Homo sapiens: one gene and its partners. The protein of the gene in region 1 purifies or fractionates together with the protein of each later gene. This does not show direct contact. Each region holds a gene or a part of one and is shown in the gene's direction. Other genes may lie near its edges. The genes, in order: YBX3, FGF12, CKAP5, NBEAL2, ABCB7 and MAP7.

Evidence for each region.
Region 2: the proteins of YBX3 (region 1) and FGF12 purify together in Homo sapiens (pull-down; one large-scale study listed by IntAct). This does not show direct contact.
Region 3: the proteins of YBX3 (region 1) and CKAP5 fractionate together in Homo sapiens (co-fractionation; one large-scale study listed by BioGRID). This does not show direct contact.
Region 4: the proteins of YBX3 (region 1) and NBEAL2 purify together in Homo sapiens (tandem affinity purification; one large-scale study listed by IntAct). This does not show direct contact.
Region 5: the proteins of YBX3 (region 1) and ABCB7 fractionate together in Homo sapiens (co-fractionation; one large-scale study listed by BioGRID). This does not show direct contact.
Region 6: the proteins of YBX3 (region 1) and MAP7 fractionate together in Homo sapiens (co-fractionation; one large-scale study listed by BioGRID). This does not show direct contact.

The regions. Positions count from the first base shown.
Region 1 is NC_000012.12:10,701,865-10,707,234, reverse strand, and holds part of YBX3 (Y-box-binding protein 3), read left to right. Parts: intron 1-3,086; coding exon 3,087-3,184; intron 3,185-5,100; coding exon 5,101-5,275; intron 5,276-5,370. UniProt on the Homo sapiens protein: Binds to the GM-CSF promoter. Seems to act as a repressor. Also binds to full-length mRNA and to short RNA sequences containing the consensus site 5'-UCCAUCA-3'. May have a role in translation repression.
Region 2 is NC_000003.12:192,716,599-192,721,968, reverse strand, and holds part of FGF12 (fibroblast growth factor 12), read left to right. Parts: intron 1-5,370. UniProt on the Homo sapiens protein: Involved in nervous system development and function. Involved in the positive regulation of voltage-gated sodium channel activity. Promotes neuronal excitability by elevating the voltage dependence of neuronal sodium channel SCN8A fast inactivation.
Region 3 is NC_000011.10:46,741,753-46,746,355, reverse strand, and holds the end of CKAP5 (cytoskeleton-associated protein 5), read left to right. Parts: intron 1-1,778; coding exon 1,779-1,930; intron 1,931-2,090; coding exon 2,091-2,333; 3' UTR 2,334-3,308; downstream 3,309-4,603. UniProt on the Homo sapiens protein: Binds to the plus end of microtubules and regulates microtubule dynamics and microtubule organization. Acts as a processive microtubule polymerase. Promotes cytoplasmic microtubule nucleation and elongation. Plays a major role in organizing spindle poles.
Region 4 is NC_000003.12:46,985,466-46,990,835, forward strand, and holds part of NBEAL2 (neurobeachin-like protein 2), read left to right. Parts: intron 1-2,524; exon of another isoform or gene 2,525-2,582; coding exon of another isoform or gene 2,583-2,612; intron 2,613-2,896; exon of another isoform or gene 2,897-2,980; intron 2,981-3,203; coding exon 3,204-3,292; intron 3,293-3,376; coding exon 3,377-3,505; intron 3,506-3,619; coding exon 3,620-3,701; intron 3,702-3,794; coding exon 3,795-3,916; intron 3,917-4,045; coding exon 4,046-4,128; intron 4,129-4,203; exon of another isoform or gene 4,204-5,370. UniProt on the Homo sapiens protein: Probably involved in thrombopoiesis. Plays a role in the development or secretion of alpha-granules, that contain several growth factors important for platelet biogenesis.
Region 5 is NC_000023.11:75,149,091-75,154,460, reverse strand, and holds part of ABCB7 (iron-sulfur clusters transporter ABCB7, mitochondrial), read left to right. Parts: intron 1-5,370. UniProt on the Homo sapiens protein: Exports glutathione-coordinated iron-sulfur clusters such as [2Fe-2S]-(GS)4 cluster from the mitochondria to the cytosol in an ATP-dependent manner allowing the assembly of the cytosolic iron-sulfur (Fe/S) cluster-containing proteins and participates in iron homeostasis.
Region 6 is NC_000006.12:136,360,081-136,365,450, reverse strand, and holds part of MAP7 (ensconsin), read left to right. Parts: intron 1-952; exon of another isoform or gene 953-1,451; intron 1,452-2,748; coding exon 2,749-3,001; intron 3,002-4,271; coding exon 4,272-4,446; coding exon of another isoform or gene 4,447-4,515; intron 4,516-4,652; coding exon 4,653-4,754; intron 4,755-5,370. UniProt on the Homo sapiens protein: Microtubule-stabilizing protein that may play an important role during reorganization of microtubules during polarization and differentiation of epithelial cells. Associates with microtubules in a dynamic manner.

The DNA.
Region 1 (5,370 bases):
AGAAAGTGGCTGGAGGATGGAAGGTGTAGTCTTAGATACAGTGGTTGACAACATTTTTGGGAGTTCATTAAGTTGTATTTGAGAAGAGACCTAAATGGAGCAAGGGATCAAGTCCATCAGGTCCCAGGAAAGGCGTGAATGGGAGTCTGAAGGGGAGAAATGGAACTGCAAATAATTATTTGGAATTATTTATTTATTTATTTATTTATTTATTTTTTGAGATGGAGTCTCACTCTGTCACCCAGGCTGGAGTGCAGTGACACGATCTCGGCTCACTGCAAGCTCCATCTCCTGGGTTCATGCCATTCTCCTGCCTCAGCCTCCTGAGTAGCTGGGACTACAGGCACCCGCCACCACGCCTGGCTAATTTTTTGTATTTTTAGTAGAAACGAGGTTTCACTGTGTTAGCCAGGATGGTCTCAATCTCCTGACTTTGTGATCCACCTGCCTTGGCCTCCCAAAGTGCTGGGATTACAGGCGTGAGCCACCGCTCCTGGCTGATTTGGAGTTATAAAACAGGATGTTTAAAGCCGTAGGGGCAGGATGATATTAACTATAAAGTGAGTGTAGGTGGAAATAGGGTCCTAGGATCAAGTTCTGGGACACACCAACGATTAAAGATTAGGAAGATGAGGATTGTCTAGCAAAGGACAGTGAGAAGGAGCAGCCAAGGAGAATGTATTTCAAGAAAGAAATGTGTTAAATGCTTGTTGATAAGTAGAGATTAAGCTGAGAATTGATTATTAGATTTGGTAACTTGGAGGTCAGTGGTTTGGTGAAGACAAAAGTTTAAATAGAATGAACTTAAGAAACAGCAAAGGGCGGGAAGAGGAGACATATTCCCCATTGAGGTTTCTGTAGTGGTGGTCATGGTGTTTGGTTTTTCTTTAGTATGTATGTCTGTAAAGAAATGGGGTAGTAGCTGGAAGAAGATAAGGGATCAGAGCAAGATTTTTGCTTGATTTGATTTGCTTTTTACAATGCAGAGTTACCCCTGGTCTCTCCCTTACCCGTTACCTCACCAACAACTTCTAAAGCCATTAAATGGGCAGATCAAGGTAGGCACGTGTGTTTGCCATAAACCCACATATATATATACACACATACATAGACACACATATATGTGTAACATTGTGTGTGTGTGTTCCATGGTTCTGTCTACTGAAAGGTCCTGAAAGCCGTGATATCTTAGTAACAGCATTGAGCATACCTGTCCCCCAATTTTTTGTTTTTAAATAACATTCTCAAACAAAAAGAATTCCCTTTGGAGAAATGGCTGATTTCAGAGCTGGGACAGAGAAAGTATAATATGAGCCTGGAACATCTTGTTGTGCCAGAAAGCGAAGAAGTACTCAAAGAATGTTGGAAACACATCAATAGGATATGAGCCAGCTTGAAGGGGTTCCCATTGGCCAGTAATGATAGTAACAGATTACAACTCATTGAAAAAAATAGAAAACCATGAGTCCATACAAATATAAATAAATAAACCAATATATTGAAAAATTTGATAACGAATAGTATATTTATGCACTTTGTAAGTACTTCCTCACAAAGTACTCATTAATTACAAAGAAGGAAAGAGTCAACTTACAGTGGAGGACTCTGGTGGCAGATACCACCTTAACCACTTATCAAAGTGAACATTATCAGTAATGGCACAAATTGAAACTATATGCCACCTGACAGGATGCAGTGAGGAGAATGCAGTGTCACTTTTGTGACATCCCCCTGGGGATGCAAAAACAATATCTAATCATTAGTGAACACCAATAACCCAAGTTGAGGGATATTTTACAAAATAACTGGTTTGTAATCTTTAAAGAAGTATCAGGGTCATGAAAACCAACGTGGTGGCTCATGCCTGTAATCCCAGCACTTTGGAAGTCTGAGGTGGGTAGATCACGAGGTCAAGAGATTGAGACCATCCTGGCCAACATGATGAAACCCCGTCTGTACTAAAAATACAAAACATTAGCTGGGAGTGGTGGCACATGCCTGTAGTCCCAGCTACTTGCGAGGCTGAGGCAGGAGAATCGCTTGAACCAGGGAGGCAGAGGTTGCAGTGAGCTGAGATCGCGCCACTGCACTCCAGCCTGGCGACAGAGTGAGACTCCATCTCAAATAAATAAATTAAAAAAAACTGCTCCAAACAAAAAGATATAACTTACTTTAGTGCATAATTCTAAACGGTGTTTTTGCTATAAAGGGCATCATTGGGATAAATGGTGAAACTTGAATGGGATCTGAGAATTACATTTAACTTTTCTGTAACTTTGTGCTTATTTCAAAATTTTAAAAAATTGAAAAGGATGGGTGCTATTTCACTGGGTATATATGCTTGGATGGAAATGATAGAAAAGGTGAAAACATAGTGAAGGGATAGCGTTAACATGCTGTGTCTAGTTGATGAGAATAGAGAGGCTGTTGGTTTCAGATATGAACTTGGACCACTTACCCAGGGTAATGGGAGAGAAGAAAATTCTAATGTAAATACAGGGAGCTGGGTAGATTTGCTAATGAGAACGTGGAAATTGTCTTCTGACTGTTTCTCTTTCTTGATGAAATAATGAAGGACAGTATTTGGCTCTTAGGGGGAGGAAGGGATGTTTTGAGAAAAGAAAAGAAAGTTGAGTTATGGCTGTATGGTCAAGAATTGCAGACATTGTTGGTGGGTTTTTTTGTTTTTTTAAGTTGTTCTTTCTTTCCCCTGGAAGTTGTACAATAAGTTAATTTTATTCCACTGGCTTAAAGTAAGTTTGTTGTAAAGAAAAATAAAAGAGTATTTTATTTAAAGAGATGAATGAAATGTATCCGATTTCAAAATGTTAAATTGATAGGCGAAAATAAAGTTAGGTGCTCTGGGACTAAGCAAATGAGTATTCTAGTCAGACTAGGTTTGTCTTCCTTTTCAGTCGTTCACGAAGATTTACTCATAAATAGTTTGTGTTGCAACTGAGAGTGCCTAATTTTGTAATGAAGCATTTTGTTTTTTACTTCTAAAAAAAATTCTGAACATAGCTGTATGCACTGTATCTTATCCCCTGTGCTGTGACACTCACTGTCAGCTCTCATTGCCTCTCCAGGCTGGTGAGATTGGAGAGATGAAGGATGGAGTCCCAGAGGGAGCACAACTTCAGGGACCGGTTCATCGAAATCCAACTTACCGCCCAAGGTACCGTAGGTATGTCGCATTTTCCACTAATGGCCAGTTAAAGGACTTGTGTGCACAATGGTAGAATGAGGACTGTGTGGTTCCGTTTTGTGGATTTATTATATATCTAGAAGATGTGAATGCTTTGACTACATGCCAGAGTTTTCAGGTGGTGGTGTGACATTTCCCACCTACTTAATACTAGAATTTTTAGTTATCTCTGCGCCAAAGCGTCATTTTGTATTCTGGAATTATAATAAGATGTAAATTAATACTTAATTTTTATCAAAATAAATCAGATAAATTATTGGTGGGCAATTCTGTGGTAATGCTGCAGATGGAGGAAGAATTGAGTGTCAGAGGATATTTGGGATAGTGACTGTTAATCACTGAGGCAGTCCAGTAGAGGGGTTAAATCAGGGTATGATCAAATCGCCTGAATTTATCTTCCTACTCTACAGTTCATTAGATGTATGTTCTTGGACTGCATTCCAGCCTGCGCAACAGAGTGAGACCCTGTCTGAAAACAAAGAGATATTCTATAGTTGGGGATTAAAGGTACTAATGCAGCTAAGATAATTAGTGTGGTACCTGATAAAGTAAAGGCCTCACTATGTATTAGATATTATTACCACCATTGAGGTTAATATTAGTGAACGCTGGGTTATTCTATTTGTGCTTTATTCCTTTGGAAGACTGAATTAGGCTAGACTCCTTCCATAAGATCCCTTTGAAGCATTTTATAATATAAGCCTGCCCATTCTTTTATCTTACCCTTTGTGGTAAGTGGAAAAGCTACAACTTCTTCCTGAATGATGTTTATGCTACCTTGAAATTTGTCAGTATGGCTTTATTGAAGGATAAAAAGTATATTATATTGGGAAAGGATTCCACCAATATAATTGTAAAAGGATCGTATCCTTTTTCTTCACAAGGTTCCCTCCAGCTTTAGGCATAATCACTAATGATTAAGTACTAGGGACTTTGAAAATAAAAGAGACGGCATAGAAATGTCTTACTGGAACAAAAAGGATTCAGTAGCGTGTGAGGCTCAGCTTTGTCAGTCCCTGGATATGTGATCTTGGAAAGTCATATTTGACCTTTTTTAACCTATAAAAGCAGCACTTTTATATAGCTCAGCCGTATACTTTATCATGTAAACCTCTTGGTTTTCTTGTTATAAATCTCATCCACAGAATTACCATTCAAATTAAATATTTAATTTTAAAACCGACTAGCACAGGCTCTGGCACATAATAATGTTTCTTCTCATGTTTAATTCCCTTAGTCTCTGCTAAATTCTGTTCATGGAAGGCAGATACCAGACTACTCTTCTTTTCTTTTTTAATTTTCCTATTCTTAGTGCTTATCAAAGGGCCTGATAGGAACAGAGTATGTGTTCAGTATATGTATGTTCCTTACAAATATGTATTCAAATGAAAGGGGAAAATGATGGAAAATTAAGATTTTTTTTTCGTGAAACCTCTATTCCATTTGTTGCATTGACCTGCGAATAATTCTAGCAATAAGTACTCATCACTTGACTTTTTTTTTTTTTTAATTTTGAGATGGAGTCTCCCTCTGTCACCCAGGCTGGAGTGTGCCAATCTCGGGTTGCTGCAACCTCTGCCTCATGGATTCAAGCAATTCTTATGCCTCAGCCTCCCAGGTAGCTGGGATTACAGGCATGTGCCACCACGCCCGGCTAATTTTTGTATTTTTAGTAGAGATGGAGTTTCACCATGTTGGCCAGGCTGGTCTCAAACTCCTGACCTCAAGTGATCCGCCTGCCTCAGCCTCCTGAAGTGCTGGGATTACAGGGGTGAGCCATCATGCCTGGCCCTGATCACTTGACTTTTTAATTTTTAAAAATAAATAAAACCTTATTTTCTGGAGAAGCCCTGTCCTGTTGGCACCTGTTCTATTTTCTTCTGTGTTCCCTACAGCAGGGGACCTCCTCGCCCACGACCTGCCCCAGCAGTTGGAGAGGCTGAAGATAAAGAAAATCAGCAAGCCACCAGTGGTCCAAACCAGCCGTCTGTTCGCCGTGGATACCGGCGTCCCTACAATTACCGGCGTCGCCCGCGTCCTCCTAACGCTCCTTCACAAGATGGCAAAGAGGTAAATCCAACCAGTCAGGGCGGATGTTGCCAGATAGTCTTTAATCATGTCAGACTTTAGCATTCTAAAAGTGGTTTTATCACATGAAACCTGAC
Region 2 (5,370 bases), on another chromosome or scaffold:
GTGTCTTCTCCATTCATCTTTCAGAGTTCTAGTAGGTTATCCGGGAGGCTAGAATATAAAGTCTTACAGTGATTAATGAGCTCCAAAGAGGCACTTAACATTCCACAGCAATAATTCCTGCCTTTTGTTTCCCCTTTGGTTTATTTAAACAAAATTATTGTGTGGGAGAACATTTGAACTCAAGCTATGTATCTACTATAAAAGCTATTCCACCTGACTAGCTACCTGCCTAACCTGTTTCTTGCTTTAGGTTATTATGAGGCTTGTTACCCTCAGTAATAGGTCTGGGGGAGGCCAACCTACTTGCCATTCCCTTATCCTTTTTCTTTTGTGCTTTTAAGTTTTTGAAGTACCAACCTTATTAGGTTTGGTGTTTTGTGCTACTGATTGACCAATAATGGTTTATTGCATCTCTTAATATTGGGTTTCCTGATTTGTCACATATTTACACCCATAAATAACGTTCGTGAAACACTTTGTACTTTTTCAAAAGGCTTTTAATATATACAATCTCCCTTAAAACCCTGTGATTTGGCATTTTAACTTTATTTTATAGATAACAAAACAAAGGATCATAAAGACTAAATGACTTAGGCAACTCATCTTACCTCTGTTTCTCTGCAAAATAAAAATTCTTATACCCATCCCAAGTGCTGTACCATAATATCATGATTATGAAATAAAACTCATGCTAATAAAGTATTTAGAACTCTTTAGAATTATAATCTGACTTTCATCATTTTTAGCTGTATCTCTCTTTACACTAGACTGTGAGATCCTGGATGGTAGAAATTGGTCCTCTGCCATTTTTGTAGTTTTAGCAGCAAGTATACTGCACGACACTCAATAAATCACCCTTCATTAACTCCCACAAAAACTTCACTTTACCAAAAGGGATTTCTTGTGTGCTTATTCTACAGTTTTAATAGTAACGTCTCCAACACCTGAATTTGTCTCTACATCTTATGGGTTTGGGGATGGAGATATATTGAGTCAAGTATTACACCTTGGATGGGTTTAAAACATAAACTGTGTAAATTCTGGCCACTAACAATGGTCTTAATCGGGGTACATCTCAGAACCACCAGACATCCTGTAATACCTGCAAGTCAGATATTTAAGAAACACTCAGGTGATGATGTATGTCCTCAATTATGAATCCATCGATAAGCTCCAAGATGGTTACTAGGAAACTATAACACATACATGTGTTCTTTATCAGGAGCACTATAGGACTTCTACTGCCTGGGCCTTGTCTTTTATTACCACCCTCTTTAGTGTTAAGAGAGTGTGTGTAGAAGAGAGATTTCATTTCTGTACTACAGACTTGGGATTGAAAATAGATATGCAAAATAGATGGCAAGAGTTTGAGGCTAAGATGACATGCCATTTTCCCCAGCATCATCTTCCTCATCTCCTTATTAGCATCCTTGCATGCAGAGCACGGTAGGATTTTTTAAGGATCTATGTCAATAGTTCTAATTTTAGCTTTCTCATCTCTCCAGTTACTTTTTGAAATAGTCTCTGTCTCCTTGTCTTTGGGAATGTGAGACTCCCACCCAGGGAGGCCGTGGTATTTAACTGCTGCGATGCTGCTGATGGCACCTAGGCAGAAGTCCCAAAGGACACCTGTTGCCCCTTCACAGATCTTTTCTTTTTTCTTTAGCGCATACTCTGCCTGGCTTTTTACCTGAAACAAGCCCCATTACTAATGATTGAAAAAGCACACATAATTGAAAGTGGGACTTTAAACTACGTGATAGAAGTAAAGGCATGCTGCCATTCTGTGGTTAGGTTTTTGTTTCTTTCTTGTTTGTGGATTGGCCATTAGCCTGAGAAGCAACCCAAAGGGACTAGACTGCAGAAAAAGAATCCAGAAACTTTCAGAGGCTGTTCAGAAGATAACTAAATGCACCAAAGAGTCCTTTACCAAGCAGGCAGGAAGAGGCAGCAATGCCAATCTCTCCCTACCTCATTCACTTCTACAATTATCACCCACGTGAAACAGGTTTTCCTCGAATCCTCCAGTACTGATAGCACTCTAACAGATTGAACAAACCTCAACACAGGTAATTTGGGAAATTTCTTTTCAGATACTTGGGAACTGAAAAATCTAGATATGCTTCCTGCTTCAAAATGTGTTGGGTTGTTTTTCTTGTTTTTCTTTTTTTTTTTTTTTTTTGCCCTTAGTCTCTTTCACATATTATAATAAATTGGGGTTAGATACTCTACAAACAAGACTATTATATAAGATTTATTATATGATCATTCTAATTGTTTAAATCTGGAAAATTTAAAATTAGACTATTTACACATTTTATCTAAAGGCTTTTCCTTCATTTCAAAACATGTTCAACATTTCTAGCACTATTTAAAATTGAATTTGGTTTACTTCTTTCTTCTGGGATTTAAAAGAGAAATATTTGCTATGTATCAAGATAAAGGTTTTCATGTAAATCACTCTTTATTTTCAAGCCTACAAATAACTTAACATGAGATGAAATGAGTACTTTTTTACTATGGGCTTTGATTTGCATCAGCATAAAAAACAAACGATTATGCAAATATAGCAAGACCCTCAATAACAATAACGTAAACATGAAGGAGACAACTAAAGCAATAGCACAGACCAATCAGTGCCAGTCTTTTAAAATGAGACCATTGGTTGATTGATTCAATAAGCAGTATTTCCTTAGAACCTGCTGTTTGTTAGCTGTTCTAAGGCTGAGCTTTTCTAACTGTAGTATGCACACTGGTGGAATTATGACATTGTATACTCTGGTGATACACTGAGGCATAAAATACACATGGTGCATGTTCCAATGAAATATAACTAATATTCTAATGTATTAATCTAACAGACTACTTAGATTATTCTAATCTAATCTATTAAATGCTAGAAGATCTGGGATCAGGTTCTCGTTCTTCTATTCCATGGATGAACCTCAGTGTACTAAACCTCTCTCTCTTTTTTTTTTTTAACTCGGTTTGCCCATTATTGATTTTTATTTTCTTGTTACAAAGAAATTGTTATTTTAAGCTTGTTTGTATTCTTTCTTGATCCTCTTTAGGCTTAACTTCTACAGAAAATAAACAGGGTGATCATAATTACCACATCAAATTTTAAGGACTCAGTGTGGGTTTGAGCTAGCTTTTTAATGCTGTGAATTGTGCAACTGAAGTTGTTGGATTTATAACTTTATTGAGGAATTAATTTGATTCTGAGTGAGAAAGCACTAAGAGGAAAAAAGTGCTACTTGGCTAAAGTTTGTATATGGCATGATTGTGACCACATAGGTAACAGGTTCATGTCTAAATTGATGGATGGCTGCAGTGGCCTTGTGGAAAAGACGCTGTCTTGGGGATCCGGAGACCTGGATTTGAATCCTAATTCCCGCCCCATCTTCAGTTTGAGCTCGTGGCTTTCTTTCTATGGCCTTGTTCTTCATCTGCAAAACAAGAGTGGATTAGAGGCAAGATTCTTTTCACTTCTGGGATTGAAAGAACCAGCATTTGTGAAGTGTTTATATAGGAACTACAGTGGATACATTCTGTTTAAAGATTTATGATCAGCTGCTTGTTCTCTCCTATCTCTTTTGGCGAACTTGATGGCATTTTTGCTTAGCAGATTGTACATTATGTTTTTATAACGTCTTTTCTTCACCCTCATATGTGTCCTCTTTACAATTAAGATGAGTTTATTTATACAACAGTCATATGTGAAGTTGATTTGGTGGATATGGTTTTCTTCTCTCTGCCAGCCCTAACCAGCACCTTCTTGCTAAAAAAAAAAAAAAAAAAAAAAAAGAAAGACTAACAGAATAATGACAAACAGTCCAAGGGCTGAGTGTTTTACTGACATTATTGATAGGAAGTCTGATTTTCTTTAGTTCTCAATCATTAGTAATATATTACTAAAAAACAATTGCACTCAATCCTTCATTGCCTTCAAACAATTTAAAAACCAATAACTATGTCTTCCAATGTTTGATTGGCTACTGATCATTTTAGATAGAAGAAGCATTTTCTACCACCAGATGAAAGCTATCCAAGGTCTAAGGGTTTCATGGTTAATAAACTGAATTTCTTGATTATGCGAAGAATAAAAGAAAGGGAAATATCTAACAGCCATTAACATGTTTATGAACATGGGTTATAATCAGAAGTGTTTATGACATAATGGTAATTATAAAAATAGTACATGTGGATATATGCACTAATTATAATGTAAAATTTGGTCATTGGCAAATAGTAGATTGTATTATGCAAAAAGTGACAATATTTGGATAATGACGATTGAATTATAAGTGGAGTTTTATCCTTTTTCACATATTTTATTACAGTTTTTTTCCCATAAAGCAGATTTTCTTTCTATGCTTTATGGGGAAAAAAACTGTAATAGGTGTTGGGTTCAGTTATAAACTTAAACAGATCCAGCTAAACTTAAAAAAGCTCTTTATTCTTCATGCTTTCATGCTTTATTCATGTCAAACATTGAAAGGACATTTGGAAAGATAACTGAGTCTTTTGAAATAATGCTTTTGCAGCTTTTACTATGTTTAGGCACTGTACTTTACATATATTGACTCACTTAAGCCTCATAAAAACCCAATGAGGCAGGCACTATTGTCATCCCTATTTCAGGGATGAGAAAAGTCAAGCATAGAGATGTTAAGTAATTTGCCCAGGTCACACAGCTAGTAAGTTGCAGACTGGCTTCAGAGTCTATGAGCTTAACCACTACTTAACACCCAAGGCATACTTTAGTATAGTCTTATAAGCCAATCAACCTTCCTTTGTTACTGAAAAACTAGTCCCACTGTGTATGTACAGATTTTATTAACCTTCAGAATACCCAATCTCTGCAGGCTTAGTCTCACTCAAGCCCTGGGCCAATAAGATACAGACTTGAGGAATCACTGGGCCTTCCTGCCTGTTATCAGGTGGGTTCAAGAAAGAACCCACTGCTCTTATGTGCCTTAAGTTGGCTTCCACCCCTAGGGGCTTAATTAAGCATTGGGTTGCAGCTTCTTTTTCTAACCCTCACATTGAATAACTGTTCTGTTTACCTGGGCAGCTCAGTGGTGTGGTAGAAAGATCGTAAGACTTGAAATCAAACACACAACTAACAACTTTTTAGTCTCTGTAACTTGGGTAAGATATATTTCTGTATCCTTGCTTCCTAATTTGTACAATGACGCTCTTTCTAGGTTAATGAGACAAACGAGGAAAATATATATAAAGAACCAAGCTTAAAATTAGTACTTAATAATTACAGCTGCTACTGTTGTTATTCTTGTTGTTAGCATTTGACCCTTAGGCTTACTACTTCCTCTGCTTCTGTATGGGGCTGGATTCTTTCCTTAAAAT
Region 3 (4,603 bases), on another chromosome or scaffold:
GCCCCCACAGTGAAAAAGTCCCTATTCGAGAATTACTGCTCACAGGATCTAGAGACAAACAGAAGACTTAGGAGGTTTCAGTTATAGAAAATAGCTATCATGAGCCTTAAACCAAGACAAGACAGACCCAACTGCAAAAGTGCCCTCTCATCAGTTCTATGCTTAGTTCTTTCCGAGTTTAGTGACATTCACCTACTCTTACATTTGAGAATGTGTTTGCCTGTCAAAGCATGTCCCTTTGTGTTTTTCAGACCCTGATCATATCCACTCTCAGCCTGTATCTTGCTGGGCTGAAGCTTCAGTTAAATTTTGTTCTCTTAAATAGGAGTTCTTTTTTGTTTTTGACACCTTAAATTACGCCTTTCCAAGACTTTACAAGTGTTTTTATTTTTTGAGGTTTTTTTGAGATAGGTTCTCACTCTGTCACCCAGGCTGGAGTACAGTGGTGCGATCTCGGCTCACTGCAGCTTCTGCCTCCTGGGTTCAAGTGATTCTCATGTCTTGGCCTCCCGAGTAGCTGGGATTATAGGTGTGTGCCACCACCCCCAGCTAATTTTTGAATTTTTTTTAAGAGGGTTTCACCATGTTGGCCAGGTTGGTCTTGAACCCCTGACCTCTAAGTGATCCACCTGTCTTGGTCTCCCAAAGTGCTTGGATTACAGGCATGAGCCACTGTGCCCAGCCAGGGTCTCTTTTTGTTGCCCAGGCTGGTCTTTAATGAAAAAGACCTCTTAGGAGTTAAAGTGTGGTGTGCAGAATGTCCAACAGTATGCCACATGTAAACATACCATGGTTTGATCAGGGCAGGCATCCTATCCTTGTTTCCAAAGCCCTTTTTGGGGATGTTCAACGTGTGATAATTTTGGCCTAAACAGCACATTTGCAACCCAAGCATGTATTCCCACTGATTATTAAATTGATTTTGTGCCTTAGAGTATTCAGACATCTCATATTGCTGGCTTTTACATAATTCTTCATTCATTTTTCACCCCCTCAGAGGATTCTCCTCATCTTTACATTAAAGGAGTCCTTTTTCCCTGGAGTAACCTTTCTACTTTTCTATTTACCATAAGGCAGTGTTTCCTCCCAGTACCTTACCTTTGGGGCCTGTGGAATGCATTTGCATTGATACCAAGTGAAATATTTTAAAGGCCCGCATTGTATCATTGTTCATTCTCAGAAATTTAGGAAGTGTGATGGATTTTTTGTTGTTTTGGTTTTCCTCTCTCCTGCCAGAATATTGATCTTAGTGGTAGGGTTACAGACACTCCAGTTCTATGCCCTCTTTAGATAATTGTTGGACACCTTCTCTTCCCCATGAATACACCATAGCCTTGGACACCTTGCTTCCTTCACAGGTTCAAATGAGTTTCTCCTATGTGACATTGGTCCAAACTTAATCTAATTCTTCCAAACATTTAAGGTCCTCGGGTTTTTCAGTTGGGCAATTACAGTATGCTTAGGAGTAGCTTCAGCTTTTTGGATTGCCCAAGTCAGCCCTGGGATTACTGGAGTACAATCCCCTGCATAACCCAGGATGCAGATGGATGACCCAATTTACATTCTGCCTTTCTATATCAGTTTTTTGCATTCTCAAGAAGCTTATATTGTATATTTCAGAGCACCCTTATCACCAACTCCAGGTAGATTCTTGTGGAATTTGTCGTTTTCAAGTATAGGAAATTCTTAATTGTTCTTTTTGGTGGGAGATTAACCAAGGCACTTTAGAAGGGGGATATGTGGATATCTGAATATTCTTTCTACTTTTTCCCCTCTAGGCATCTCCCCTCAGATGGAAGTCACATGTGTGCCCACGCCCACAAGCACAGTGTCCTCCATAGGTAACACAAATGGGGAAGAAGTGGGGCCATCTGTCTACTTGGAAAGGCTAAAGATCCTCCGACAGCGATGTGGTCTGGACAACACAAAGGTACTGCTCCTTTTCTTCTGTGCAGTTCAGGGAGGGTAGTCACAAGCAGGTCCGAGGCAGGCTGGCCCACAGAGAAGTGGCTTAGTCTTGCTGTAGTTCTGGAGCTGCATCTTGACCTGCTTGACCTGACCTTAGACAATCTCTCTCCTTCTCTCAATAGCAAGATGACCGACCTCCTTTGACCTCTTTGCTCTCCAAACCAGCAGTTCCTACTGTCGCCTCTTCCACAGACATGCTCCACAGCAAACTCTCTCAGCTCCGGGAGTCACGGGAGCAGCACCAGCATTCAGACCTGGATTCTAACCAGACTCACTCTTCAGGAACTGTGACCTCCTCCTCCTCCACAGCTAACATAGACGACTTGAAAAAAAGACTGGAGAGAATAAAGAGCAGTCGCAAATGAAGCTGCCCCACTCCCCCGGCACCCTGCAGCTTTAGTTTACTAAACTAGAAGTCCTCATAGTTTAAAATGGCCTCAGCAGGCCTAGTGTATACAAACTGGTTGTATGTATCATGCCGTGGAGCTAGGGGGAGGAGTCATTGTGGCACAAGTATTTGTACATACTCTGCTTCTCTCTGTCAGCGTCCTGCTGCTCTAGAAGACTGTCCGTGGATGAGTTTAGTGTACAGACTTGTAAACAGCTGCCCCCTCTCTGCTCAGTCTAGTTCCCAGATCCTTTTCTTTTCTTTTTAATTGCTCATTTGTAAAATTGTCCTAATCTTTCCTAGCTTTTTAATAGTTAATATTAGAAACTCTTTAATAGTTTTCCTTTCAGTTTGTGAGCTCTTCTCTGTCGCCCTGAAGGGTCACTGTATTCTGTATGAATGCATGGCATGATACAACTAATTTAAGAGTCTTTTATAAATAAAGTTTGCATTAACTATACCTGACTCCCAAGATGCTCCATATCATGGAGTGTTGGGCAGCAATTTTTTAACTTTTGGTACCAGCTGGGTATTCAGCCAGTTAGAGAAAGGTTAATTACTGCTTACAGAGCTTCCCTTTTTCTTGGCTCACAGACTTGGAGCTGTCTTTTATTCCTTTGGAATGGAAGGAACTCTCCTTCCCTGCTCTCCACAAACAGCTCCTAGGGAGCAGAAAAATCTCATCCTTCCTTGTTTTGAGATTTTGGTCATGATTTCCCTCCAATTATCACCAGTCGTTTCAAGAAGCTCTTGGGCATCCTACCACTTTGCTGACCAAAGGCACACAAGATTGCGCCCAGAGATTGGCTGGGCTTCAGTGGTTCTCACACTACAACTAGATTTGTGTTCATTTGACTAATGGAGTTTGGGAAATCTTAGTGGTTTGCTGCTTGGTTGTATGAGTCTCTTTTGGTCCAGGCTAACAGTTGCTTCACATTCAGTCAGAGTAAGGATGAGAAAGTGAGCTGAGTATTCACCTCTGGAATAAATTCCACAGGACCTCCCTCCACAGTCAGAAAAACTCTTCAGGATGAAAAGGTTCTGGATTCAGGAGGAGATTTTGGGCAGTTATAAAGTTCAAAGGAACTTTCCTATTGTAGCCCACCTTCAATTCAATTGATGTCCAAGAAATGAAAGATTGATGGAAGATTAATCCTGTAAAGGTTCCAGTCATCGTTTTCAGGTGGCCCCGGAGCCTCCTGAAATTAAACTTGTCTCTCCTTTATAGTGGGAACATGGGAGTGGGTATTTGTTCACTGAAGGGATGATGGAGGCGTTTGCTGCTATAGTGGAAAGACATATTTAGAAAGAATGGCTACAAAGGCTGGGCCTGGTGGCTCACTCATACAACCGTAGCATTTTGGGAGGCTAAGGTGGGTGAATCACTTGAGCCCAGGAGTTCAAGACCAACATGGGCAACATGGCTCTACCAAAAAAATACAAAAATTAGCTGGGTATAGTGGCTCAAGCCTGTAGTCCCAGCTACTTGGGAGGCTGAGGTGGGAGGATCACCTGAGCCCAGGAGGTCAAGGCTGCAGTGAGCCGTGATCACTCCACTACACTCCAGCCTGGGCAACAGAGCAAGACCTTGTCTCAAAAAAGAGGAGGGAAACAAAAGAAGAGGAAAAAAAAGAGTGGCTGTACTCCTGTCTGGAATTAGCACAGCTGACTGGAAAAACCCAAGTCCCTAGAGCTTACAACACTGACCGCTATGTCGGAAGAAAACAGACTTATGAGAATGTGTGTTCTTGTTTAAAAAGCAGGTCCTGCATGTCACAAGTAATTCTGAATCCCTTCCCCCTTGATCGAGTTGATGCCCTGGGCTGCCAAATCCTGCAAGCTCACTGCCTTTCAGTCAACCAGAACCAAAGAATGAGGCCAAGGAACTCTGTCCTGTTTGTTTTCTGATGTGTTGAAAAATGAGAAAAAAAAAAAAAAACGTTATGAGGAGGGTGCTAAAGATCCCTATCTCAGGTCCCTTCCCGTGGAAAACCACGTTAGAAGATCCTAGGCCAGGTACTGTAGCCACAGGGTTTCCCTGCTCCACTCCACTATCCTGTGCCTGAGGCAGACGTTGATCTTCATTCTTTCCCTGAGCTCATGGATGAGACTTCTCAAGACGGAGCCATGCTCCATCCCACACCTGTGACCTCTGCCAACAGTAACCGTGAAGAATGTGCTCTGAAAGGGTATCTTTGAAGTTCTATGATTCTTTTTTTTGCAAGGGACTCTTGCTGTGTCGCTCAG
Region 4 (5,370 bases), on another chromosome or scaffold:
TACTTCAGAATTCCAGAGGAGTGGCAGTTCCATGCCCACCCAGGGACTGTTTGAGCCTAAGCAGCCCTCGGGAGCCCCTCACCCCCAGCACTCTCAAGTGCCCTCACAGCTAGTTGGGCATAAGTTGGGGTCTCTGTGGTGGTGCACATGAGACCCCCTCTTCCCAGGGACACCGGCCTTCCACATTCCCACAACCTTCTCCCCTGCTGCAGGACCTGGGCATCACTTACCTATGGACCCTGGAGAGGGCTTGGCAGGTGTGGCTGCTCCCGACCTGCCTTCAGTGGGGGACAGGGTTGGGGCCCTGACCCAGTTAGGTTGGGGCAAGGGGCTGGACTGTCCCTGACCCGTGTTCCTGCTCAGAGCTGGCACAACCGACCAAGGCAGAAGCTCTGAGAGGGGCATGGGAAGCCTGAGCATCATGGCCACTCCTCCCAGGCCCTGGACCCTCACATGCAGCACTGCCACCATGCTCTCGTCCCCTGCCATTCTCTGCCCTCTGACCCTGGCTCCCTGAGGGACTCCCGTACCCCGACACATTGCAGTCTCAAGCCATGGGGCCTAGGTCAGAGTTGGCCTGAGGTCTTCCAGGGAGAAACAGTGAGACCCAGGGAGGCAGGACAGGCAGCCACCCCACCCCTGCCTAATACTGTGCTTTGGAGACCTCGTCATCCCCTTTCAGAGCCCCTGAAGGCTGTCTTGATTGTCCCAGCCCTGAACCCAGCTCAGCCCAATCTGCTGAAAGTTTACAGGACTGGACAGGCCAAGGGTGTGGTTCTAGGGACAGAAAGTACTATCTACATACTCTAGGAGTATGTAGAGATTGAGGGACCCACCCCTGTGCTGGGAAGGCTGATCAAGGTGATGGCCACCAGGAGGGTGGGAGGTTCCTGCTCAAGTACCAAAAGCCCAAGTCACACAAGGCAGTGGGGCATAGGGTGGGAAAAGGCCTGGATAGGAGGATGTGAACCACAGAGGGGGAGAGGTGGAAGCTGGAGAAGCAGGTTCTGGTTGGACCAGCAGCCTGGAATGCTGCTCAGCAGTTGAGCCTTTATGGGGAGGGGTTAGACACGGTCAAATTTGGGCTTTCAGGTGCTCAGTAGAGCTGCAGCTGGCAGGAAGACTCACATTTTGAGTGACTAGCTTGACTGAGGGGCAGAAGAGAGGAAGACAGTATTGGGACATTTTTGAAGGCAGCTAGGGGTCTCTGTGGGGCCACTGAGGCAAGGATCGGGGCCCGCATGGTCCTCATGGGCTGGCTTGCTAGCAATCATGAGTGGTCCTGGCCTAGAACTAAGGTCTGGCTTTTAGCATCCTCAAAGGTACACTGAAGACAAAGTAGTAGATAAGGCATCCCCTGTGGGGCCTCCTGTTTCCCCATCTGCAATGGGAGAGGTTCAGAAGAAATGGTCCAGGGCCCCTGGCCACCTCTGCTGTCTCAGGATCTGGGTATTTTGGGCTCCTTGCTGATTGTTCGGGAGGAGGCTGCCAGCAGGAGAGGGTGGAGAGGTCAATAAATGTAACTGACAGACAAAATGTCATGGTTGTGTGGGTCTGCACCATGGTGGCCCTGGCACCTCTCTGAGTTGTCTGGGCTTCAGATCTGCACTAAACTGTACCAGGGAGTTCCCCAATCACAGGGTGGACGGCTGCTCTGCCTAGGTTTTTTGGGGATCTGGCTCAGGTCTGCTGCAGTCAGGCCTCTTGCCCTGGGGCCATTCAGGCCTTGCCCGTGGTCTGGGCCCATAGGCTGCAAAAATTAGCCATCCATCCAAAGATAGTTCTGGAGGTCCTTGGGTATGAGGCCCATGGCCCCTGGGGAGCAGCCTGAGGCCTGCTGAGTGCTGACTGTGATGTGTCCCTTGCCTCTTCATCCTTTTCCACTCTAGCTCCCCCTGTCCACCTCTCTGACTCTAGGAAAGAAGGCTGCCTTTTGGACTCAGCTGGTTAGGAGCTCCATATGGGGCCAGCCTGGAGGAGCTCCTGTATAAGCCACAACCCACCCCTGGCCCCTGGGAGGGGCTTAGAGATTAGAGCAGATACGGGCTAGGCTAGGATTTATCAGCTGTGTTCCTGAGCGAAGAGAACTGCAGAGTTCAGATGAGGTGGCCAGGACATGGCGGGCGGCGGGGCGGGACAAAGGTATGGCTGAGTCTTCTACATCGACCCCTGTGGCCTGAGGCCTTGCGCGCAGGTCAGGGAGCTGTGGGTGCCTTAAGTGAAGGGTACTGCAGCAGCAGGATCAGAACCCTCACCTGGATAAGAGCTCTTCCAGGCGCCAACCTCATGCTTGTAAAACTAGTCTTGGCCCACAAGCCCCACCCAGGACAGGTGACTCCACCCCTCTGTAACAGGTCCCACCCTCTGTGCAGGCCAGGTCGCTTGCAGCCTCTCTCACTGGGGCCCAGGGTGCCCCGGCCCCCCCACATCCCTGCGGTCTGCCGGGAGGAAGCGGTCCCCCTCCCCCACCGTGACTCTGCGCTTCCTGCCCCAGCCCCGGGGCGGGAGGAGACATTTCCCGTTCACACCAAAGTTTTCCTGGCAGCGCCTAGACCTGGGCTTAGCCACTGCCCCTCTTGCCCATGGAACCAGCTCTGGGGCCTGGGGTCCAGGTAACCAGCAAGGGTGGGTGGAGGTTCCCGGGGCAAGGCAGGGCCGCACATGAGGATGTGCGCATGTCTGGGTCTGCCTGTCTAATGGTACACGTGTGTCCTGGGATCCACAGTTAAAGAAGGCTACTGAAGGTGGTGGCTGCTGGGCTGGGTGAAGATGGCAGATGAGGACCCAGCCCAAGGCTCTTGGTAGGGGGTGGCTGCTGTGTGGGACACCTTCTCCAGCCCTAGCACCAGTGTGGGCCACAGCCACACCCCACTTACGCCCCTCCCCTGGCTGTGTCAGACCTGCCTAGGACTGCAGGCATTAGGGAGGTGGGAGCAGAAACTGGGAGGCTGAGAGAAGCAGTGGGGTGCCTGGAAAAGTGGTCAGTATGTACCTAACTCTCTGATGCTGACCTTCCAATGTCCTGCCCTCCCTCCCCCGTCCCCCACTCCCCTTCTCCACACCCTCCACTCTGCCTTTAACCCCTTGTCCATGCCCTCTGTCCACCTCCATTCATTCTTCGCCTCTGTCTACATCCCCTTGTCCCTGCCCTGTTTACTGCATCCCTCCTGCCCCCCACCACTGTTCCCCTGTTCTGCCTACAGAAGGACCTGGGTTACCTGCAGCAGTGGCTGAAGGCCTTTGTAGGTGCCTTCAAGAAGAGCATCTCACTGTCCTCTCTGGAGCCACGAAGGTGAGGCTGGATCTGCACTGAGGGCAGGGACAGAGCAGGGAGATTGAGGGGTCCTCAGCACCCGTGTCTCCCCTTTCCTTGCAGGCCAGAGGAGGCAGGTGCAGAGGTCCCGCTGCTACCACTGGATGAGCTGCATGTGCTGGCCGAACAGCTGCACCAGGCTGACCTGGAGCAAGCCCTCCTGCTGCTCAAGCTCTTCATCATTCTCTGCAGGTGTCTCTGTTGTCCACTCTACAAGCAGGGGCCTAGAACTGTGGGCCAGAGGGAGAGGGGACAAGGAGGGGCATGGTGTATTATTGTGACCTCTCTCATCATTGACTCCCCCAGGAACCTGGAGAACATAGAGGCAGGCCGGGGCCAAGTGCTAGTGCCCCGAGTGCTGGCACTGTTGACCAAGTTGGTGGCGGAGGTGAAGTGGCCTCTACCTTGGGGGGCAGAGGGTGTATGCAGGGAGGCAGGCGGTAGCCATGGCGGGGCTAACCCTCTCTCCCCACACCTACAGCTGAAAGGATGCCCACCACCCCAGGGCCGAGGCACGCAGTTGGAGAATGTGGCCCTACATGCTCTGCTTCTCTGCGAGGGCCTCTTTGACCCTTACCAAACCTGGCGGCGCCAGCGCAGTGGGTGAGACCCAGCCCACAGGAAGGGAACCCAGAGGAGGGTGGGGAGAGGATGGCCGCGCTGGGCCCAAGGAGGGGTGACGGCCAGGAGTGGTGAGAGCCGGGCTGATGTACTTGGCCTCACTGCCCCCAGGGAAGTCATCAGCTCCAAGGAGAAGAGCAAATACAAGTTCCCTCCTGCTGCTTTGCCCCAGGAATTCAGCGCCTTCTTCCAAGGTCAGGCCCCGCCCCTGCCCCCACTTGGCTCCACCCCCAAACCTAGGCCCCTTCCTGTCGTTCCTTGATCCTGCCATACACAGGAACCACTTGGTGGTGGCTGCATGCAGGACTGGGAGAACCAAAGACCAAGCAAGAGTTTAGGGACAGAGACAAGAGAAGACATCTTGGGCTGGAGCGAGGGCCTCCCATCAGGTGGAGGGGTGGGGTCAACCTGCCTACCCAGATTTCTCATCCTCTTTCCCCGCCATCTCCTGGATCCTTCTAGCCACTTGTACCCTACTGTGATCTTAAAACTCTCTGGTCCAATCCCTTTGTCCCCATAGCCTCCACGCATCTCCACCCATCCCGGAGACACAGGAGGTATCTCCACCTCCTGTTCCCTGGCTGCTGGAGGATCTGGTGCCCAGGACAGCTGTGGCTGCCTGTTCACAGGTGGTCCTGTGAACCTGTTCTCCCTGGTGACCCTCCACCCCTGGGTCCCCTCTCTCCTCTCATTGGAGGGAGACTGGCCAGGACTTTAGATAGGCTCAGGGTGGGATATGGCCTGGACAGAGGTGGGCAGGGCTGTGAAAAGGTGGTGACCTATTGGGATATTAAATGTCTCAGTGATGCCCCCATGGAGCTGTGGGCCTGGATCTAGAGTTGGGGCAGCAACTCCAGGAGGGGAGGCACCCCTAGGGAGCTCCTCGACTTTATTTTCCCATAGCCTGGGTGCTGTTATTAAAACAAACTGGATTTCATTTCTCCTCCCATCATATCCCTTGATGTCAACCTGACGTCCTCAAGATGAAATCCTACTCCTCCCACAGCCTTTCTCTCCACTTGCCCTGCTGCTCAGCCTGGCTTCTGTCCTCTCATTCCCAGACTGCTACCACTGACCCCACCTCAGGGTCTTAGCCCATGCTGTGCCTTCTCCCCTCCAACTGCATTCTCAGGTCTCCCCTCAAAAGCCCCATCCCCAAGGAGGCCTCCCACCCATCCAGCCGGAATCAAGCCCCAGCCCTACTCTTCCTCCTCTGCCAGGCATGTGACCCGGGGCTAGTCCCTTCTGCCCTCTGAGTTTCAGTCCCTGGCCTGGCATCCTGTCCAGTTTTGCTGGCGCAGGGCCAGGTGGGCCTCCTACGTATTAGGTTGTGAAAGCCCCTAGAAGTCCCAGGCAAAGGCATGGGCGTGGGGGGAGGTGGCATCAGTATAGTAGATACAGCAGAGTCCCCAGAGCACGGCATGGGAAGCACCAAC
Region 5 (5,370 bases), on another chromosome or scaffold:
CTCTTGGGAATGGTTTTTGTTCTGTAGTTCTCCAATAAGGCAGATGAAGTTAAGATAAAATTTGTAAATGTTATCTTAGATAAAATTAGATATCTTAAGATAAAATTTCTTAAGCTGGAAGAATGAGGGGGAAGAGGGAAAAGGAGAAGTTATTAGGAATCTCAGAGGAGGCAATGGCAATACAAATTTAGCTTTCTCTCTTTCCATGAACGCTATCTCCACAACTTCCTTCTTCCACTCTGTCCTTTACATCCTACCATTTCCTTTAGTTACCATTTCCTCAGTGTGCAAAACAAGGGAAAGATGTTACCTTTGTTTTCTGTTTCTTAAAGGCATGGAACTCTTGCCATCCTTTTTTTAAAACAGGGTGAGAAAGGAATGATTACAAAGTTTTCAAAGTAGAAGCTGAGGTAACCTGAGGTACCTGCAAATTTGTGACTTGTGATTAAGATTACAAAATAATTACTGAATTCATACTTTTAGGACGATCATTAGTATATAGCATAATATTTTAGAGCTGAAAGGAACCTTAGAGCAGTGTTATGAAATAATGTTAGTGGGTTGGATTAGCACTTTTTTAGATGAAATTCAGTAGAATATAAAGAAAATAGCAGTGCTTTTTACATCTTAAGTGAAGTATTGTTTCATGAACTTTTATGTGTATATACACACACACATATATATTTTATATATATATATACACACACACACACGCACACACACACACACACAGTCCCACATGTATGTGATTACTGGAATTCATTGTAAGTATTTCTCACCCAGTATATGCCCTAGACCTGGGTTGTGGAATATGGTAGTTCTTTTGGATAGGTACTGTTTTGTTTTCATTTGTTGGTCTGACCTCATGGACCAAGAATGGGAGCTTTAATTTCTCCCAGTAGCAAGTTCCACCTTCCTACTCTTCCACCATTGGCTGCTAAGAGTTAGCAGAGTAGATAAAAATTAAAATACTTTACTCCTGGCTTTCATATTAACTGAAGTGGGAATATAATAACAACACTAGGGAAATAATCCTCCTATTCTATATTTTAGAGGTTCTAGTTCATATTTAAATTTAACAATATAAGATGCCTATGAAGAAACTACAGTGATTATTCAACAGTCGTCCCAAAATATACTAAAAGAATAGAAAACAGAACTTATTCATCCTGGCTAACATGGTGAAACCTCGTCTGTACTAAAAATACAAAAAAAATTAGCCGGGCATGGTGGCGGGCTCCTGTAGTCCCAGCTATTCGGGAGGCTGAGGCAGGAGAATGGCGTGAACCCGGGAGGCGGAGCTTGCAGTGAGCTAAGATCGCGCCAGTGCACTCCAGCCTGGGCGACAGAGCAAGACTCCGTCTCAAAAACAAGCAAACAAACAAACAACAACAACAAAAACAGAACTTACAAGAGAAATAAGGGTGTCTTTAAGTGGATTATAGATCATGGAACTGAAAAGGGTGAGAGGTGATTCAGTGACATTTAAAGTACCTGAAGCGGCCTGGCCCAGTGGCTCATGCCTGTAATCCTAACACTTTAGGAGGCCAAGGCAGGTGGATCACCTGAGGTCAAGAGCTCGAGACCAGCCTGACCAATATGGTGAAACCCCGTCCATACTAAAAATACAAAAAGCAGCTGGGCATGGTCACGTGCACCTGTGACTACAGCTACTCAGGAGACTGAGACAGGAGAATTGCTTGAACCCTGGAGGCGGAGGTTGCAGTGAGCCGAGATCGCGCCACTGTACTCCAGCCTGGGCGACAGAGCGAGACTTCCTCTCAAAAAAAAGAAAAAAAAAAAAGGACCTGAAGGGGTTATTTGTAGTTCAGTGATGCCTAAACTTAACTGGAACATTAGGTTATGATACAAAGATGTGGACTTCATTTGCAGGAAGAGGGATTTAATGTGCATATGAGAAATAATTTCTTAGACTAATAGTCTATCTTAGTCTGTTTGGGCTGGTATAACAAAATACCATAAACTACATGACTTATAAGCAAGAGCAATTTATTTCTCACAGTTCAAGGTGCTGACAGATTTAGTGTCTGGTGAGGTCTTGAGGTTCATAGGCGGTGCCTTTTAGCTGTGTCCTCATGTGGTAGAAGAGACAAGGCAGCTCTTTGGCCCCTCTTATAAGGGAACTAATCCTGTTTATGAGAGCTCTACTCTCCAAGTCCTAATCACCTCCCAATGACTCCACCTTTTAATACCATCACATTGGTGATTAAGTTTCAATATAGGAATTTTAGGGGGACACAAATGTTAAAAGCATAGTCCTTTTATTAGGAGACCAATAAAGACTTTTAAAATTATTAAACAATAATTTGCTGTCATTAGAAAAATACGAGCTGTTAGGAAGCAGCCAGCTTGGTTTTGAAAAGAGCAAGACATACCAAACCAATTATTCATATGAGTGAGTGACAGTCTATCTTGATTTCAACACGGCTTTTAATTGTCCCCTACATTGTTCTCACACAGTAAGCTTGGAAGGAATGATATTGAATACTATTAAGAGGTCTTGAGGTAGGAGTAAGCCTTACTGTAAAGAAAATACAGATGACTTAAAAGATTTTTATTTCTAAATGTTAAAAATAATGAAATAACTGGTGTGCAAAGGGCATAACTTGGTATTGTGGGATGAACACTGGACCAGGACACTTGACCGCCTGAGCTCTATTTGTACTGTTAATTATCTTGGACACATAACTTGTTCTTTTGGACATCAGATCCTGTAAACTAGTAATATTTGACTACCAGATCTCTAAGGTTTCTTGCAACTCTCTTGTTTCTTTACTGTAATCCTTTAGGACCAGCCCTTTTTATATAGTACCTCTACTTTGTGATCCTAGTTTACTACTGGTGTAGTATTCAGGAGCAACATAGGGTAAGTTTATGTTCACATGAATTTTTAATGGGACAAATTTGTATTGTTCTTGTCATATTTGTATATCTAAGAGTAGGAATAGAAAAATGTAATTTAATTATGAGCTTAGTATTTGGTAGTGTTGGGAGGATGGAAGTAGTGTGGAGGAAAAAGTAAGCTAGGTTCCGAAATCATCTGGGATGGTAGAAATAGATTCTAAGGGGTGGTGAAGAATAACAGTAATGCTATAAAAGTTGTAAATAAAGATATACCTTACATGGGCTGTATATGGTAAGGAATGGAAAGTGGCACTGGGACTTGAGAAGAGGAATTCAGGGGATTCTTTTTTCAGATATAGTTGAATAAATAACATTCTCTAAGTCATTGACACATTGGTTTTAACTAGTTATTAAGATTATTAGGAAGAGGAAGAAAATTTCATGTTTCTAAACTTTCTTTTAGAACACGAGGCCCTTTGAGAATCTGATCAAAGCCATAGACCTTCTCCCTAGAAAAATATACATACGTATGTGCTTCATTTTGCATGCAATTTCAGGGGAATCAGAAACCTATCCCCTCTTCCAGTCAGTAATCCCTGATTAATACAATATTGCTGGCTGGTGGGTTTCTAATGGTGTTCCTGAGTAGCCAGTGGCAAGATAAAGAGCACTTGTCACTGGGCAGCGGGGTAGAAATAGAGTGGAAACTTACATCAAAATTTTGATTAAATGATAAATGCATAATTGATCATTTAATTATTGTTATACAATTGTTATAAAATTAATATCATTTATTGCTGTATTGTTGTCAGTGTTATCTTAAAGATTTTGCTTTTTCAAAGAAAAGTATGTTCTTTCCCATATTGTAAAATAAGGTATATAATAAGAGATAAAATTGCCCATTCTGTATACGATTCTTATGCTTTACATTGTCCCCATTTTAATTATACAAAACCACATCTAATAAAAACGTCAAGACAGATATCTACAATCCCACATGTTAAATAATTTTTCCTTTTTCCTTTGAATCTCTGTTCTTTCATGTACATAATTTTTACATTATTGGGATAATTTTAAATTCTGTTTTTACTTGTGAGCATTTTTTTTCTTGGTGCTCAGTCTTGACCAAAATTAGGTCTTTTAATTACTTAAGATTTTAGTAATGTTAATAGGTATATATAGTTACCTGCAAAATGTGATATTTTTGTTGTTTTGATTTTCTCCTTCCTTTCCTGAAATCCATCTCCCTGAAGTCCTCATCTGTGCTCTCTTGACTCCCTTGTAGGATTTGCCACTAGTGAGTAAAGATACTTTTCAAGTCTTTATTTAATGTCATTTGGTCTTCACAGTAATCCGGTTAGGTAGATGAACATTTCTTTGTAGTAGCAATGGCCTCTTCTGTCCTTTTCAGTCCCTTAACTTCTGCCCTAGTTTTAGACCCTTATTACTTTATGCATGGGTTTTGTCCCTGCTTTCAGGGACTTGCCCTTTCAATCCATCCTATACAGCACATCTAGATTATTCTTCCTAAGGCATGACTTTTATCCCATCACTTCCCTGCATAAACTTCAGTGGGCTTTATATCTTAGCCTTAAAAATTTCCACCTAACTAGATTGCTAGCCATATTGTAAACTGTTTCTCTACAAATACCCTGTCCCTCCAGTCACCCTATATTGTTCCCTGTTCCTTGGACCATGTGCTTTTTTGTGTCTGTTCTTTTTTTTATGCCACACCCTATGTCTGAAATGCCCTCTCTCTAACTGGTGCCTATTTTTCAAATGTTAGTTCAAAGGTCAGTCCGTTCCCTGAAACCATTCCTTATAAGCTAATAAGACTTTGATTTCTCCCTCCTCTGAACTCCTACAACACTTTTTCCTACAAGTAGTTATGTATCTTGTGGAGGAGATAAGATTTTATGTGCCTAAAATGCTAATATATTCCAATCATCTTTTTGTTTTTATCTTCCACAGAGCTAGGCACGGTATGTTACATGTAATAGGTAATCAGAAAATATATGTAAAATGAATGATTAAACTCTATAACCAAACCAAAGCAAAAATCTAACATAATAATTAATAATATTTGCTCCACTGCTATACATTTGGAATTGAAAGCTAACTTTCTTCAGGGCAACCTCATAAGTTTGTCCGTTGCATTTCTGTCATTAGGCATATGGTACCGTGGTGGAGTAGCATCACTGATTGTTGTCAGTTTTAGTTCAATAACCAAAGCACACTTACTTTTTATCCTAAAATTTTTGAGTTACTTTATTTGTGAGCATCATTTGCTAAGATAAAGTGACTTACAGGATAACATTCTTTGAGGAATAAGATATAAAAATTTGCTGTTTGTAGAAATTTTAACTGCACACTGTATTTTGGGATGTTCATTAGTCCTCTGATTAAGTTTTCTTTACAATATCTAGAGAGGGATGGATATTAAAGTAGGGAAACCGCATCCTAAGGGTATAGTTCCTTAGGTGCTGATGTTTTGGGAGAGCAACT
Region 6 (5,370 bases), on another chromosome or scaffold:
AATTTTTTCCAGAAGACCCACTGGTTTTCACCTCTGCCAGGGTAACCAGATGCTACTTAGAAATGTAAAACCACCTGGAGCTTGAAGTTCAATATCTCTAGTTGAAAACTGTCTTCATTCCAAAGTTTTCTACTTAAGACTTAATTTGAAGATAGAGGGTGGGGCAAGAAAGAGGAGATGATTCAAGACAGGTGAAAATGGTAGAGAAAGGAGGAGTCCAGTGTTTGCTTCCATGGAAAAAGAAAGAAAGGAAAGGAGGGTCATAGAACATCATAATAGCCATGAAAAAAATCTGTGGAAGCAGAAGTAGAAATGTAAATCTCAAATCATACATCCAAAAGCCTATTGATAGAGCCACAAACACGTGAATTCAGGTGTAGGTTCTCAGTGCTTTTATTGGCTGAGTCCATTTCACAAAATGTGTTCAGAGCACCTGCATCAAAATCACCTGTTGTATTCATTATCTATTGCTGCATAATGAATTAGCAGCATGAAACAACAACAAACATTTATCATATCACATGGATTCTTGGGTCAGGAATTTGGCAGCAGCACAGCTGGGTGGTCCCTGCTCAGGACCGCTCATGAGATTGCAGTCAAGCTGTCCACTAGAGCTCCAGTCATCTCAAGACTCAACCAGATCTGAAAGGTGGCTTACATACAAGGCCGGGGGCGGGTGGCCTCAGCTTCTCCACACATGGACCGCTCCATATTATTGCTGAATGTCCTCATCTATCTGCTTGCTCTGCTGGCTTCTGCCAGAGTGAGTGACCTGGAAGAGAGAATGAGGAGGAATGTACAATGTATTTTATGACCCAGTCTCAGAAGTCGCACACCAATGTTTCTGCCACATTCTGTTAAGTAGAAGCAAGTCACTAGGTGGAACTCACACTCAAGGAGAAACATAGTCTCCAACTTTTGAAGAGAGAGTTTTCAAAGAATTTTTTTTAAGAGTTCAGCTTTTTATTGAACTTGTTACAAAAGAGGTTTAGTCAAAAAGACCAAAGCCCATATCCTCCTTGGACTCCTCAGACTCTCTTTTCTTTGCTTCTATTTCTTCTCCTCAGCTGGAACAGCATTGGTGGAGGGGGCAGGACCTTCTGCTGGTGCAGGTCCACGAGCTCCTCCATTGCAGATGAGGCTCCCCATGTCAACATTGGCCAAGGCTTTTGCAAACAAGCCAGTCCAAAAAGGTTCAACATTTACACCAGCTGCTTTAATGAGGGCATTGATCTTATCCTCCTTGACGGTCACCTCACCCTCATGCAGAATGAGGGCCGAGCCTTATGCAGAATGCAGGCGAGCTCAGAAACAGAGGCCATGGTGTGAGCAAGTGTGGGGCTGGCACTGCCAGGCAAGGTGCTAGTTGCCAGATGAAGTGAGGGTTCCACTTCAATGTGGCCCTACATTCCTCAGAGGGACCGAGTGCAGCTTGGCAGCAGCTGAGGAAAACTGGAAATATTTTTAAACCACCACATCTATAATGTTTTGACATACAGACCCTTGGTTTTTACCTCAGACTTACTAAGTCAGAATATGTAGTGGTGGATATGAGGACTCTGAAAGATACTAAGCTTGTCAGTTGATTCCTAAACATGGTTGCCAGATAGAACACAGGGTGGCCAGTTAAATCTGGCAATGCTATTCCTGTGCATACTGGAGTTTAAGGACCCCTGGTATAGCCTGTGTGCTTGATAGAAGTCAGAATTTTTTTCCAGAAGGCCCACTGGTTCTCACCTCTGCCAGGCTAGCCAGATGCTATTTAGAAATTTAAAACCACCTGGAGCTGTGAATTCAATATTTCTAGTTGAGAATTGTCTTCATTCAAAAGACTTAATTTGAAGATAGAGGGTGGGGCAAAGAAAGAAGAGATGATTCAAAACAGGTTAAAATGTTAGAAAAAGGAGGAGTCCAGTATTTGTTTCCATGGAAAAAGGAAGGAAAGAAGGGCTAGAGCATCATGATGGCCGAGAAAAGTCTGTGGAAGCAGAAGTAGAAATGTGACTCTCAAAAGGAGGGGCTGGAGCAGCCAGGGGCCAGAGCTTGCACTTGCTGGTGCCTTGCTCACTGTGGTGCAGAATTGTGAGCATCAGTGTGGGGCTTCTGGGGCACCAGCTCTCTAGGTCATCTTCCTAAATCCGAGTAAGGCCAGAGAACTTCTGCTCCCATCTTGCATCTTGGCAGCTTGGGATATATAAGCAGAATGAGCACCAGCTCCCAAAGAGGCCCCGAGCTCCTCCCATCTCAGACCTAGAGACAGCTCTGGGGAGACAAAAGGGTCCTCTTCATAGGGTATCATCTTCCCAGGCTGAATCTGGACTCATGGCATGGATGCTGAGGATGCTGCTCTAGTAATGAATGGTTACCGAAGAGTAGGAATTTTCAAATGCAATAAAAGACAAATGGATGATCTCATCTTCTTTTTGCTCAGTGTATAACTCCCCACAGACTCTAACATGAGGCTTTGTACACATTCAATATATGTTAACTGATTTAACTGGTATAAAAATAAGACTTGGTGACAGAGTGTCAGCTTTGTTGGATGTCTTACTTACACATACTGATTTTTTTTATCTGTTGCTTGGTTACAGATAGAACATAGTGAAACCGTGAGAACACACAGTAATAAACATTCCCTTTTCTTTCATAATGGTAAATTCTAGGCCTTGGATGTGGGGAATGCTAGTTTTGGTTTTGTTCTTTGGATTTTGTTTCCAACTGGTTTTCTCCTTGTACCTATTTGTGCAGCTGCTCCAGCCATGGCCCCAGCTCCAGCCTCGGCCCCAGCTCCAGCCTCGGCCCCAGCTCCAGCCCCGGTCCCCACCCCAGCCATGGTCTCAGCCCCGTCATCCACTGTGAATGCCAGTGCTTCTGTTAAGACTTCTGCAGGCACCACCGACCCAGAGGAGGCCACAAGGCTTCTAGCTGAGAAGAGGCGGCTGGCCCGAGAGCAGAGAGAAAAGGAAGAAAGGGAGAGGAGGGAGCAGGAAGAGCTTGAAAGGTAAATGGGAGACATTGCTCCACACCATGGTGTCAGTGATACTTTGGATTAACTCATCACCCCTCTGAGAGGGAGGAGGTGATAATACTGATGAAAGTGAATGGATTAGTTCTTTCAGGATTACTCTTACCTAATTTTCCTATGACTACTAAGCAGTTTGTTTTTTAAATCACATCTTCTTCTTTTTTTTAAATAGAAATGGGGTCTCACTATATTGCCCAGGCTGGTCTCAAACTCTTGGGCTCAAGGGATCCTCCCACCTGAACCTCCCAAAGTGTTGAGATTGCAGACATGAGCCACCATGCCCAGCCATGTTTTCTTATTTTAATGACAGTGCAACAACATTGATGGAGAAAGCTTTAAAGAAAAAAAAAATCCATAATCATACCAATTTTCAGTAATAGTGTACATTTTGGGTGGTCCTTTCTAGTCTCTCAACAGTATGGGAGTGTGTGTGTATATATACATACATATACATATTTACATAATTATAACCACAGCAGAGGTACAATTGTACAGTCTGCTTTTTTACTTAACACATCTCCAATCTCCAGGTTTCCGTTTTATCTTTGTAATTATCACATTAAGGCTGCATAATAAGGGTTCATGTTTTCTCCTTTCCAGATAAAACTCCTCTCGGAGGGTAGCCAGGTGGGATCTTTACATGCCCCATGATTGCCTGCCAGGCAGTATTCCAGAAACAGTTTGTTTAATTGGTCATCTTCTGGGCCTAATAAGACGAATGTCAATATAATTGTTCTTCAAACGAACACAACTGTACCCTGGGGAAGGATCTCATGCACTCGCTGGACCGCCATCTTGGCCATGCCTTTCCCTTGGCTCCAACAGGGAGCTTACATGGCTGTCTTCCTCCTGTCCTGTGACAGAACACTGTGACCCTTATTTATTTACAAAGATTCCCTTTGGCTGGGGTGCTTCAAATTCATTACTAAGAAGTCACATTATTTGAATTAAACAAGTCAGAGCCTTTAAAAAATAGTTAAATTCCTTCCAAAAAGCCAGCTCTCCCCAAGATATTGGTGGTTACACGTTGCTTCTATTTAGCACGGACAGCAATGCAGCTGGCAAGGCGGGAGGAAGTCTAAGGGTGGCTTCGCGCTTTGTCCCTTAGCAGTGGTGAAGGCATCCAGTGGGGATTTTTCTACTGGACGCCTAAAGGAACCGCCCTACAGAACCACCGACGGAGGCCTCTCTTCAAAGATTTCTCCTCAGGTGTCTTTGGTTTTGGTTTTGTTCTGTCTTTTTCCAGACAAAAGAGAGAGGAATTGGCTCAACGTGTGGCTGAAGAGAGGACGACTCGCCGTGAGGAGGAGTCGCGCAGGCTGGAAGCCGAGCAGGCCCGGGAGAAGGAGGAGCAGCTGCAGCGGCAGGCGGAGGAGCGGGCGCTGCGCGAGCGGGAGGAGGCAGAGCGCGCCCAGAGGCAGGTGCGGCCGCACCCCACCCTGGCCCCGGCCCCAGTCCCGCAGGGAGACGCCCCAGCCCAGCAGAGGAGGGTGCGGACTGGACTGCTGGTGCTCCCGCTTTCCACACCTTCTCCATCCGCCACCTCGCCCCCACCTCTGGGCACCCCCTGGGAGACCCGGGCAGCCCGCCTGTTTGTCAGAGGCAGACGCCGACCTTCTGTTTTCAGAAAGAAGAAGAAGCTCGCGTTCGTGAAGAAGCAGAGAGGGTCCGGCAGGAACGAGAGAAGCATTTCCAGAGAGAAGAGCAAGAGCGCCTGGAGAGAAAGAAGGTAGCTGCGTCTTAGTAGAGAGGCCCGGGACGCGAACTTGCACCTCTAAGACCCAGAGACTAGCCCTGGCCGTCAGAAAACGCGTGTTCTACCCTTGCCACATAAACTAGTAGCCCCCTCAGTGATAACAATCTCCTGCAAAGAAATCTCTCTCGGTGTTTTAGCCGTCACCAAAAAACACTTACTTCCACTTCATGTAGCTTAAGGCAGTTCCAACTTTCTTGAATAACCCCAGTTAAGACAAAGCAGCACTGCTGGGCCGGGTGGCTCATGCCTGTAATCCCAGCACTTTGGGAGGCCACGGCAGGTAGATCACCGAAGTCAGGAGTTCGAGACCAGCCTGGCCAACATGGTGAAACCCTGTCTTTACTAAAAATGTAAAAATTAGCTGGGCGTGGTGGCGGGCGCCTGTAATCCCAGCTACCTGGGAGACTGAGGCAGCTTGCGCCCAGGAGGCAGAGGCTACAGTGAACTGAGAGCTTGCCACACGGCACTCCAGCCTGCGTGACAGGGCAAGACTCCATCTCAAAAAAAAAAAAAAAAGTGCATATTGTATTTTTCCAAAATAACAGACCATTTTAAATAATCTATTTCATCAGTTAAATATGCCAGGCTG